Linked DNA regions of Homo sapiens: region 2 is linked to region 1. The links come from fine-mapping of genetic effects on gene expression. A gene starts in region 1. The other region holds a variant in brackets. All regions are shown on one strand. Distances are from middle to middle. Region 1 holds the start of PSMD4 (proteasome 26S subunit ubiquitin receptor, non-ATPase 4). Region 2 overlaps ANXA9 (annexin A9).

Region 1 (5,000 bases):
GCCTCAGCCTCCAGAGTAGCTGGGACTATAGGCACCCACCACAATGCCCGGCTAATTTTTGTATCTTTAGTAGGATGGGATTTCACCATGTTGGCCAAGATGTTCTCGATCTCCTGAACTTATGATCCGTCCGCCTCGGCCTCCCAAAGTGCTGAGATTTCCCAGCCTTGGTTTTCTTTTTTAGTCTTGCTCTGTTACCCAGAGCAATCTCAGCTCACTCTAGCCTTGACTTTCTGGGCTCAGGCGACTTTCCTACCTCAGTCTCTCAAGTAGCTGGGACTACAGGCTGGCACCATCACAATCAGCTAATTTTTGTATTTTTTTGTAGCGACGGGGGTATCCAGGCTGGTCTCGGACTCCCAACCTCAAGTGATCTGCCCACCTCGGCCTCTCAGTGCTGGGATTACAGGCGTGAGCCACCGTGCCCAGCTGGCCTTCTTTTTTTCATTATGGGAATTTCCAAACCAAAAGTAGAGTAGTATGGTGAACCACTATGTACACATAACCCAGCCTCAATAATTATCAACATAAATAAGACCAGCGTGGCCGGGTGCAGTGGCTCAAGCCTGTAATCCCAGTTTTCGGAGGCTGAGATGGGAGGCCAGGAGTTAGAGGTTGCAGTGAGCTATGTATGATTGCACCACTGCTGCACTCCAGCCCAGTGAGACCTTGTCTCTTTTGTTTTACTTTGAGACCCTGTCTCAAAAAACAAAACTATTTGTTTCTTCCAGAGGATTAAGTTAAATCCCAAACTTCATATACTTTTTTTATCTATGAATACAACATATAACCCTTAATAAAGCCTACTTTTATAAGGGTGATAACTTTAACACTATTATCATGCCTAAAAAAATTGCTTAATATCAAATATCCAGCTGATGTGATGGCTCACGCCTGTAATCCCAACACTTTGAGACTTTTTTTTTTTCAGAGATGGGGTCTGGCTATGTTGCCTACGCTGGTCTCGAACTCATGCGCTCAAGCCATCCTCCCACATCAAAAAATTAAAAACAAATTAGCTGGGCTTGGTGGCATGCACCTATAGCCCCAGCTACTCAGGAGGCTGAGGCAGGAGGATGGCTTGAACCCGGGAGGTGGAGATTGCAGTGAGCCGAGATCAGGCCACTGCACTCCAATCTGGGCAACAGAGCGACACCCTGTCTCAAACAATAAAACTTTGTAGAGACGGAGTCTGGCTGTGTTGTCCAGGCTGGTCTCAGACTCCTAGCCTGAGTTGATCCTCCTGCCTGGGCCTCCCAAAACGCTGGGATTATAAAACCTAAGCCATTGCATCAGGCCTTGAATGTAATTTTTGATTAACCAAAACGGTTTAGTGGTTTGTTCTTTGGCAGATTAGTTAATATAATTGAGTTGTCAAATCTTTTCCGGGCTCTGTACTGGGCTTAGGGAATTGTAAAGATTAAGACACGTTGCCGGCCAGGTGTGGTGGCTCACGCCTGTAATCCCAGCACTTTGGGAAGCTGAGGTGGGTGGATCATCTGAGGTCAGGAAATCGAGACCAGCCTGGCCAACATGGTGAAACCTCGTCTCTACTAAAAATACAAAATTAGCCGGGCATGGTGGAATGCCCCTGTAGTCCCAGCTACCTGGGAGGCTGAGGCAGGAGAATCCCTGGAACCCAGGAGGTGGAGGTTGCAGTGAGCCGAGATCGAGCCACTGCACTCTAGCCTGGGTGAAAGAGCGAGACTCCTCCGTCTCAAAAAAAAAAAAAAAAAAAAAAAAAAAAAAAAAAAAAAAGGCACGTTGCCCACCCTTAGTTAAACGAGGGAGGAGATAAATATACAAATAAATTCAATTGAAGGGTATAAGGGCTTGTTGAATTAAAATTCTACAGGGAACTGAGGGCTGTAGAAAGTCATTAGCGATCCCGACACTTTTTTTTTTCTTTTTTTGAGACGGAGTCTCACTCTGTCCCCCAGGCTGGAGTGCAGTGGCGCGATCTCGGCTCACTGCAATCTCTGCCTCCCGGGTTCAAGTAATTCTCCTGCCTCAGCCTCCCGAGTAGCGGGGATTACAGGCGTGCGCCACCATGCCCGGCTAATTTTTTGTATTTTTAGTAGAGACAGGGTTTCACCATGCTGGCCAGGCTGGTCTCGAACTCCTGACCTCGTGATCCGCCCGCCTTGGCCTCCCAAAGTGCTGGGCTAACAGGCGTGAGCCACCGCGCTCGGCCGATCCCGACACTTTTTTAAAATGCCGAAGCCGGAATCGACACAGCACTTTCAAAGGTTCCTCCATAGCTCCCCTGAGATCCGGCCAGCGGGAAACCCCAACTGAGAACTGCAATGGCAGGGAAAGTGGAGGCTAGATCCTGTTTTTTGTGTTACCGCGATTCCCTTCAACTACCCTCAAGACGCCTACAAATTTGTTTGGCGGCACCTACAACTCCCAGAACGCAACGTGGGGGACGGAGGCGGAAGCAGCTGGCCAAGCCGAGGTCTGTGATTGGTGAAGAGCGACGGGCCAATTGGAGGAGTTGTTGTTAGGCCGTCCCGGAGACCCGGTCGGGAGGGAGGAAGGTGGCAAGATGGTGTTGGAAAGCACTATGGTGTGGTGAGGAGCTACTTCGGGGCAGGAGGGGCAGAGCTGGGTTCCGGGCGCGTGTAGCGCCAAGGCAGGGAGGGCCTGGGGTGGGGGCCAGGGGCTCATGGGCGAGAGGCGGCCCTGGCCCCGGAGGTAAGGAGCCCGCTGGACTCCCTGAGTCATCCCGGGGCCCTGGAGTGGCGGATAGTCCCGGGTTACCACTGTTACCCCCAGGGGGACGGTCATTGACTGGTCATTCCTGCTTCCTTTCTCTGTTCTAGCGCCGTCTTCTCTAGAGCAGCCCGGGTCTGTCTTTAGCTACAGTTCTGCTTTTCGGACTCATCGTAATAGTTTTCTGCCCTCCTTTCTTTGCAAAATAACGTCTATTAGGAAAATAGATTATTAATCCCTTCCTCTCCCCATTCCCTCGTCTCTAACTTCATTACCTTTCCCTGTATCATCTTCAAAGGTACCATTTACAGATTGCTTTTTATGTATCAGTCATTTTGTTTATCTCACTTATACCTCACAACCACACCTTAAGGTAAATTATCTCTCCATTTTACGGTTCAGGATACCGAGTCTCAGCGATTTTAAGTGATTTGTCCAAAATCATACAGCTAGTTAAGTGGTGGAGTCAAGATTTAAACCCACGGCTGTCTGACACAAAGGCTTTATCCGGTGAGGTAGCTCTCTTTGTCAGTTTCAGGCTTGGGCTGAGTACCTATTACGAGTCACATTAGAAGAGGAGGACATAAATTTTTGCAGGGTTTCAAGAGTTCCTTCTAAGTGTAATCACTGAATGTAATACAGAATAGTTGACGAACACAAATCACCGATTGGGTGAAACAGGCACCTATGAGATTTCTTCTTTTTATTTTCTCGGGGGAGCATAGCATTGCCAGATAACATACAGGATGCCCAGTGAAATTTGAGTTTCAGATAAACGATGAATAATTTTTTTTTGAGACGGTCTCGCTCTGTCTCCCGGACTGGAGTGCAGTGGCCCAGTCTGGCTCACTGCAGCCTCCGCCTCCCTGGTTCAAGTGATTCCCAGTGATTGAACTAATTTACACTTGCACCAACGATAGAACAGTGTTCTCTTTTCTCGCAACCTTGCCAGCATCTGTTATTTTTTTAGTTTTTAGTAATAGCCATTCTGACTGGTGTTAGGTGGTATCTCGTTGTGGTTTTGATTTATTTGCATTTCTCTAATGATCAGTGATATTGAGGTTTTTTTAATAGGCTTGTTGGCTGTATGTATATCGTCTTTTGAAAAGTGTCTGGCTGGGGCGTGGCTCAGGCCTGTAATCCCAGCACTTTGGAAGGCTGAAGTGGGTGTATCACCTGAGGTCAGGAGTTACTGACCAGCCTGGCCAACATGGTGAAACCCCATCTCTACTAAAAATACAAAAATTAGCCAGGCGTGGTGGTGGACGCCTGTAGTCCCAGCTACTCCAGAGGCTGAGGTGGGAGAATCGTTTGAACCCCGGAGGTGGAGGTTGCAGTGAGCCGAGATGGCGCCACTGCACTCTAGCCTGGGCGACAGAGTGAGACTCCCTCTCAAAAAAAAAAAAATAATAATAAAATAAATAAATAAATAAATAAATAAATAAAAATAAAGTGTCTGATGTCTGTTCATGTCCTTTGCCCACTTTTTTTTTTTTTTTTCTCTTTGAGAAGGAGTTTTGCTCTTGTTGCCCAGGTTGGAGTACAGTGGCGCCATCTCAGCTCACTGCAACCTCCGCCTCCCTGGTTCAAGTGATTCTCCTGCCTCAGCCTCCTGAGTAACTGGGATTACAGGTGCCCGCCACCACGCCCAGCTTTTTTGTATTTTTGGTAGAGACGGGGTTTCATCATGTTGGCCAGGCTAGTCTCAAACTGCTGAGCTCAGGTGATCCACCCGCCTCAGCCTCCCAAAGTGCAGGGATTACAGGCGTTGAGCCACTGTGCCCGGCTCCTTTGCCCACTTTTTTTTTTTTTCGCTCTTATTGCCCAGGCTGGAGTGCAATGACACAATCTCAGCTCCCCGCAACCTTCGGCTCACCGCAACCTCCGCCTCCCGTGTTCAAGCGATTCTCCTGCCTCAGCCTCCTTAGTAGCTGGGATTACAGGCATGCGCCACCACGCCCAGCTAATTTTGTGTTTTTAGTAGAGACCAGGTTTCTCCATGTTGGTCAGGCTGGTCTCGAACTCCCACCCTCAGGTGATCCGCCCGCCTCAGCCTCCCAAAGTGCTGGCATTATAGGCGTGAGCCACTGTGCCCGGCCGGTCTTCCAGGATTTTTATAGTTTTGGGTTTTACCTTGTCTTTAATCCATCTTCAGTTAATTTTTGTGTATGGTATAAGAAAGGAGTCCAGCTTCAATCTTCTGCATATGGCTAGCCTAGCCAGTATCCCCAGTTATTGAATAGGGACTCTTTTTCCTCACTGCTTGTTTTGTCAGCTTTGTCAAA
Region 2 (5,520 bases), 270 kb before region 1:
ATCCCTGCCATCACACCACATTCCAAGCTGAACCCAGCCATGCTGCAGCCTGAGGAAAAGGTGGGAATCTGCCCTCTGAGTCATGGGTGTCACCTTTCATGTCCCTGATGGCTGGCCTTGCTTGGCTACAAGTGTCTCACCCACTAATTTGTGGCTTTTTCCCATCCTCATCTTACCACCCCTTCCCCCCACCCCTACCTCTTTTTCTTGCTTTCCCCAATTTTCCTTTGATGTCTAATCTTGGCCTATGTTCTTCTTTTGAGACAAGGTCTTGCCCTGTAGCCTAGGCTGTGCAGTGATGTCATCATGGCTCACTGCAGCCTTGACCCTTCTGGGCTCAATCAGTCCTCCCACCTCAGCCTCCTAAGTAGCTGGGACTACAGGTGTGCCACCACCATGCCCAGCTAAATTTTGTATTTTTTGTAGAGATGGGGTTTCGCTGTGTTGTCCAGGCTGGTCTCGAACTTCTGGGCTCAAGCCATCTCCTGCCTCAGCCTCTGAAAGTGCTGGGATTACAAGCATGAGCCACCGCCCTGGCCGTGGCCTATGTTCTTAATCCCTCTCCTACCTTCCTTCCTTCTTGCATCTGTTTCCCTTTTCTCTTTCTTTTTCTCCCTTTCCTGCTCTTTTCCTTCCTCATATCCCACCTCTCATATCATTTTTCCTTACCTCCAATGAGGGTGCCAGGTCCTAACCATCTTGTGTTATAATACGGGTTTCCCTAGCTCTTCTTCACTGCCTGGCCCCAACTCTAATAATGGTTGCCTCCTGCCCAGCAGGTTGGTGCTTGGTGATGAAGCCACTGCACACCTCACAACTTAGAGATGTTTTTAGAGTGGCCGTGATGGTACTTGTGCCTTACATCCTGGGAATTAGCAGCCATCAAGCTACTCCAAGCAGGGGCTAGCAGGGCTGGCAGGGTATAGCGGGTCAGGCATTTGGCAGGTCCTGGGGATATCTACACTAGGAAAACTCAGGAGGATTCAGAGAGCTCCTCACCCCACCCCAGATTTCCAGGTGGAGGCTGTGGATGACATCACATCTGAGACCAGTGGCATCTTGCAGGACCTGCTGTTGGCCCTGGCCAAGGTGAGGAGGACTGACCTGCAAGGAAGGGAGTCACGTTCACCAGGCAAGGAGACACGCTGGAGCAGGGAGCATTGCTGTCCTGTAATGGACAAGAGAGGGCTTTAGGGGAGACCAGCCTTCGCTTGTTGGTCTGAAGATAAAAAGGTGCCCTTCAAAGAGCCCTCTAAGAACAGTTTCTCCTCCTAGGGGGGCCGTGACAGCTACTCTGGAATCATTGACTATAATCTGGCAGAACAAGATGTCCAGGTGAGCAGGGGGTTTAGGAGTGTGCACAGCCGCCATGCACATAAGATGCCTTCCTCCACCATATCTTAGAGCCGGTGACCTACGTGCCCATTTTTCCCGCAAACCCATCCCTGCCTTGGAGAGGGAGTTCTCAGTTATGTGGTAGGGGCAGGAGGTGTCAGGTAGCGTCATAGCTGAAGCCTTTTCACTCATCTAGCCTCTGACTCCTGAGCTCATCAACTGACATATTCTCCTCTCATGAGCGTTTGGGGGCAGAAAGCCTCCTCAGACCTTTTGGGGATTATTTAATCCTCGGGTACCAGGATTTTTCCAAATCAGTGAATAGAGCTGTGAGGCTGTAAGGGCAGAGCCCTCTCTTAGCCCTATTTCTTTCTTAAAAAATAAAAAACATAAGATAAAAAAACATAAATAAAAACAACTAGTAGGCCAGGCATGGTGGCTTATACCTGTAATCCCAGCACTTTGGGAGGCTGAAACAAGAGGATCACTTGAGCCCAGGAGTCCAAGACCAGCCTAGGCAACATAGTGAGACTCTATCTCCACAAAATATTTTTAAAAATTAGCTGCACCTGTAGTTCCAGCTAGCTAGGAGGCTGAGGTGGGAGGATCGCTTGAGCCTGGGAAGTTGAGGCTGAGGTAAGCCCTGGTCATGCCACTGCACTCCAGCCTGGGTGACAGAGAGAGACCCCATCTCTCTCGCTCTCTCTCTCTCTCTCTCTCACACACACACACACACACACACGCACACACACAAACCTAGTTTACGGGTTAAAATAAACTTTCTGGCTGGTCGTGGTGGCTCACACCTATAATCCCAACAATTTGGGAGGCCGAGACAGGTGGATCACTTGAGGTCAGGAGTTCGAAACCAGCCTAGCCAACATGGTGAAACCCCGTCTCTACTAAAAATACAAAAATTAGCCAGGCATGATGGTGAGTGCCTGTAATCCCAGCTACTCAGGAGGCTGAGCCTGGAGAATCACTTGAACCTGGGAGGCAGAGGTTGTGGTGAGCTGGGATCACACCATTGCACTCCAGCCTGGGTGACAGAATGAGAGTCCTTCTCAAAAAAAAAAAAAAAAATCCTTTTCCACCCTCAATCCCATTTCCATCATGATGATGATAGATTCTGGAACGTCATACCCATGGCTCCCTAGGCCCCAACCAATGATCCTGATTGACTCCTCCCTGACTCATTCCTCCCTCCTAGGCACTGCAGCGGGCAGAAGGACCTAGCAGAGAGGAAACATGGGTCCCAGTCTTCACCCAGCGAAATCCTGAACACCTCATCCGAGGTACACACAAGCCTTCTTGTCCCCCTAGCTTGCTCTAATGATCAGTTTGGGCTGAGGAAGGTGGGGAGGGCCCATCCTTTCCAGAGATAATTAATCCCCCATCCATCTTTCTAACTGCCTCCTACACACACAAGTGTTTGATCAGTACCAGCGGAGCACTGGGCAAGAGCTGGAGGAGGCTGTCCAGAACCGTTTCCATGGAGATGCTCAGGTGGCTCTGCTCGGCCTAGGTAGGGGCCTGCTCAGGATTTGTGAAGTAAGTCTCTCTTGGGATGGGAGATTGTGGTCCTAGTTGTGAACCTCCATCCTTCCATCTTTGTTTCCAGCTTCGGTGATCAAGAACACACCGCTGTACTTTGCTGACAAACTTCATCAAGCCCTCCAGGTGAGAGGGGCACTCCTTTCCCTCCCCAGAACAGAAACTGGGGAGGAGAGAGGAAGTCTCAGCTTGCTGCTTATGTAACCATCCTATATACACCGTCTAAACCTCAAGCC[G/A]CTCTCCTTCCCAGGGCTTACACACCAGGGCTTACACAGGGGTGGAGGAATGAGCTGTGGTGAGAACTAACTTAGTTGGCTCCCAGGGGCCCTGAAACTAACATTTTGGCCTTGTTAATGTCTAGGTGGCCAAATAGAGATATGAATCTGCTCTGTAAGACAGTGCCTTGTGCAGGCTTAGTTGTTGCCAGAGTGATGGTGATAACACTAGCAAGAATAATGACAAGGGCTGGCATTTTGCAGGTGCTGATTGTGTGCCACAGCCTATCCTGAGCAGGGCACACATATTTCAATTAATCCTCACAACCATATCCATCCGTATCTTATAGATGAAAAAACTGAAGCCCAGAGAAGTTAAGTACCTTGCTTGAGGTCACGTAGCTAGTAAGTTATACAGTCTCCCTACACAACACTTCACGATGTAAGATATTGACCATCCTTGTCAGCTATACGATAAGTGCTCTTAGCACCCAAGGCCCCCTTTCTCCACGCTGGTCAGATTTTGTTCCACATTATCCATACTTTTTTTTTTTTTTTTGAGATGGAGTTTCACTCTTGTTGCCCAGGCTGGAGGCTGGAGTGCAGTGGCACAATCTCGGCTCATGGCAACCTCCGCCTCCTGGATTCAAGCGATTTTCCTGCCTCAGCCTCCCAAATAGCTGGGATTACAGGCGCCCGCCACCACATTATCCTAATTTTTTGTATTTTTAGCAGATGCGGTTTCACCATGTTGGTCAGGCTGGTCTCAAACTCCTGACCTCAGGTCATCAACCTGTCTCGGCCTCCCGAAGTGCTAGGATTACAGGCGTGAGCCACTGCGCCCAGCCCATATTATCCGTACTTAAACTGCTGACTGTGGCTTGAGTGCTTCCACCAATAGAATCCAGTTATTCTGTTGATTGAATTAGGTCTCCTATTAGTAGAACTGTCCCCCAAAATCTATAAATAAAAAGTTCAGGAAGGGCGCAGTGGCTCACGCCTATAATCCCAGCACTTTGGGAGGCCAAGGTGGATGGATCACTTGAGGTCAGGAGTTCGAGACCAGCCTGGCCAACGTGGTGAAACCCTGTCTCTACTAAAAATACAAAAATTAGCCAGGCATGGTGGCAGGCACCTGTAATTCCAGCTACTTGGGAGTCTGAGGCAGGAGAATTGCTTGAACCTGGGAGGCGGAGGTTGTAGTGAACCAAGATCACGCCACTGCACTCCAGCCTGGGTGACACAGTCAGACTAAAAAAGTAGTTATCATTTTGGCAGATGGAATAGCTTTCTGTAGACTGGTTGAGAAGCCATCATGCCATGTTGATGATTGCCCAAAAGTTAGTAAATATAAGCAATTGTTCTGTCATCTAGAGATTTCTATCTTGACAGTAGATTATTATACTTGCCCAATAAAGCCTGTATGATTATAATGAGTCAACACTAAGATTCATTTGAAGAGTTGTACTTATCTGTCCAAATTCCTGTCATAAATACAAACTATCCCAGCAGTAGATGATTTTGTAGTGTATTTGGATTACAAGACCCACACTCTTGAGTGTAGATAAAAGATTTATCTTAGAAGTAGTAGTCAGGGGCCAAGCATGGTGGCTCACACCTGTAATCCTAGCACTTTGGGAAGCTAAGGTGGGAGGATCGCTTGAGGTCAGGAGTTCAAGACCAACTTAGGCGACATAGCAAGAACTCGTCTCTACAAAAATAAGAAGAAAATTTGCCAGGCATGGTGGCACCTGCCTCTAGTCCCAACTACTCAGGAGGATGTGGTGGGAGGATTGCTTGAGCCCATGAATTAGAAGTTACAGTGAGCTGTGATTACTCCACTGCACTTCAGCCTGGGTAACAGAGCAAGACCCTGTCTCAAAAAAAGAAAAAAAGAAGTGGTAGTCAGAAAATAACATAGGCCCATTTTTCTGAAAAAAAAAATTTTTTTTTTGAGATAGAGTCTGGCTCTGTTGCCTAGGCTGGAGTGCAGTGGCGTGATCTCAGCTCACTGCAGCCTTCACCTTCTGGGTTCAAGTGATTCTCTGGCCTCTGTGTCTTAAGTAGCTGGGATTACAGGCGTAGGCCACCATATCTGGCTAATTCTGAATTGTTTCTAAAAAGGAAAAACTCGGGCTGGGCGCTGTGGCGCATGCCTGTAATCCCAGGACTTTGGTAGGCTGAGGCGGGTGGATTATTTGAGGCCAGGAGTTCAAGACCAGCCTGGCCAACATGGTGAAACCCCATCTCTACTAAAAATACAAAAATTAGCCAGGGGGTAGTGGTGAGCGCCTGTAATCTCAGCTACTTGGGAGGCTGAAGCAGGAGAATCTCGAGCCTGGGAAGCAGAGGTTGCGGTCAGCCGAGGTGACGCCACTGCGCTCCAGTCTGGGTGACAAAGTGAGACCTGCCTCAA

The links. PIP is the estimated chance that this variant, and not a neighbour inherited with it, causes the effect.
Region 2: its variant is the best candidate, but not a certain one, in a credible set for the expression of PSMD4 in whole blood (INTERVAL, PIP 0.61).

What each region holds. Positions count from the first base shown.
Region 1 is chr1:151,252,235-151,257,234 of GRCh38, forward strand. PSMD4 (proteasome 26S subunit ubiquitin receptor, non-ATPase 4) reads left to right here and starts at 2,500. Exons shown (of 10, transcript NM_002810.4): 1 at 2,500-2,574. The coding sequence starts at 2,549. RefSeq lists an enhancer at 2,392-2,581 and a silencer at 2,622-2,761.
Region 2 is chr1:150,985,327-150,990,846 of GRCh38, forward strand. ANXA9 (annexin A9) reads left to right here. Exons shown (of 14, transcript NM_003568.3): 8 at 1,010-1,089; 9 at 1,276-1,335; 10 at 2,546-2,630; 11 at 2,765-2,860; 12 at 2,957-3,015. Among named protein-coding and RNA genes, the nearest start is that of ANXA9, 5.8 kb to the left of the region's middle. The variant G/A (reference allele first, on the strand shown) is at 3,126.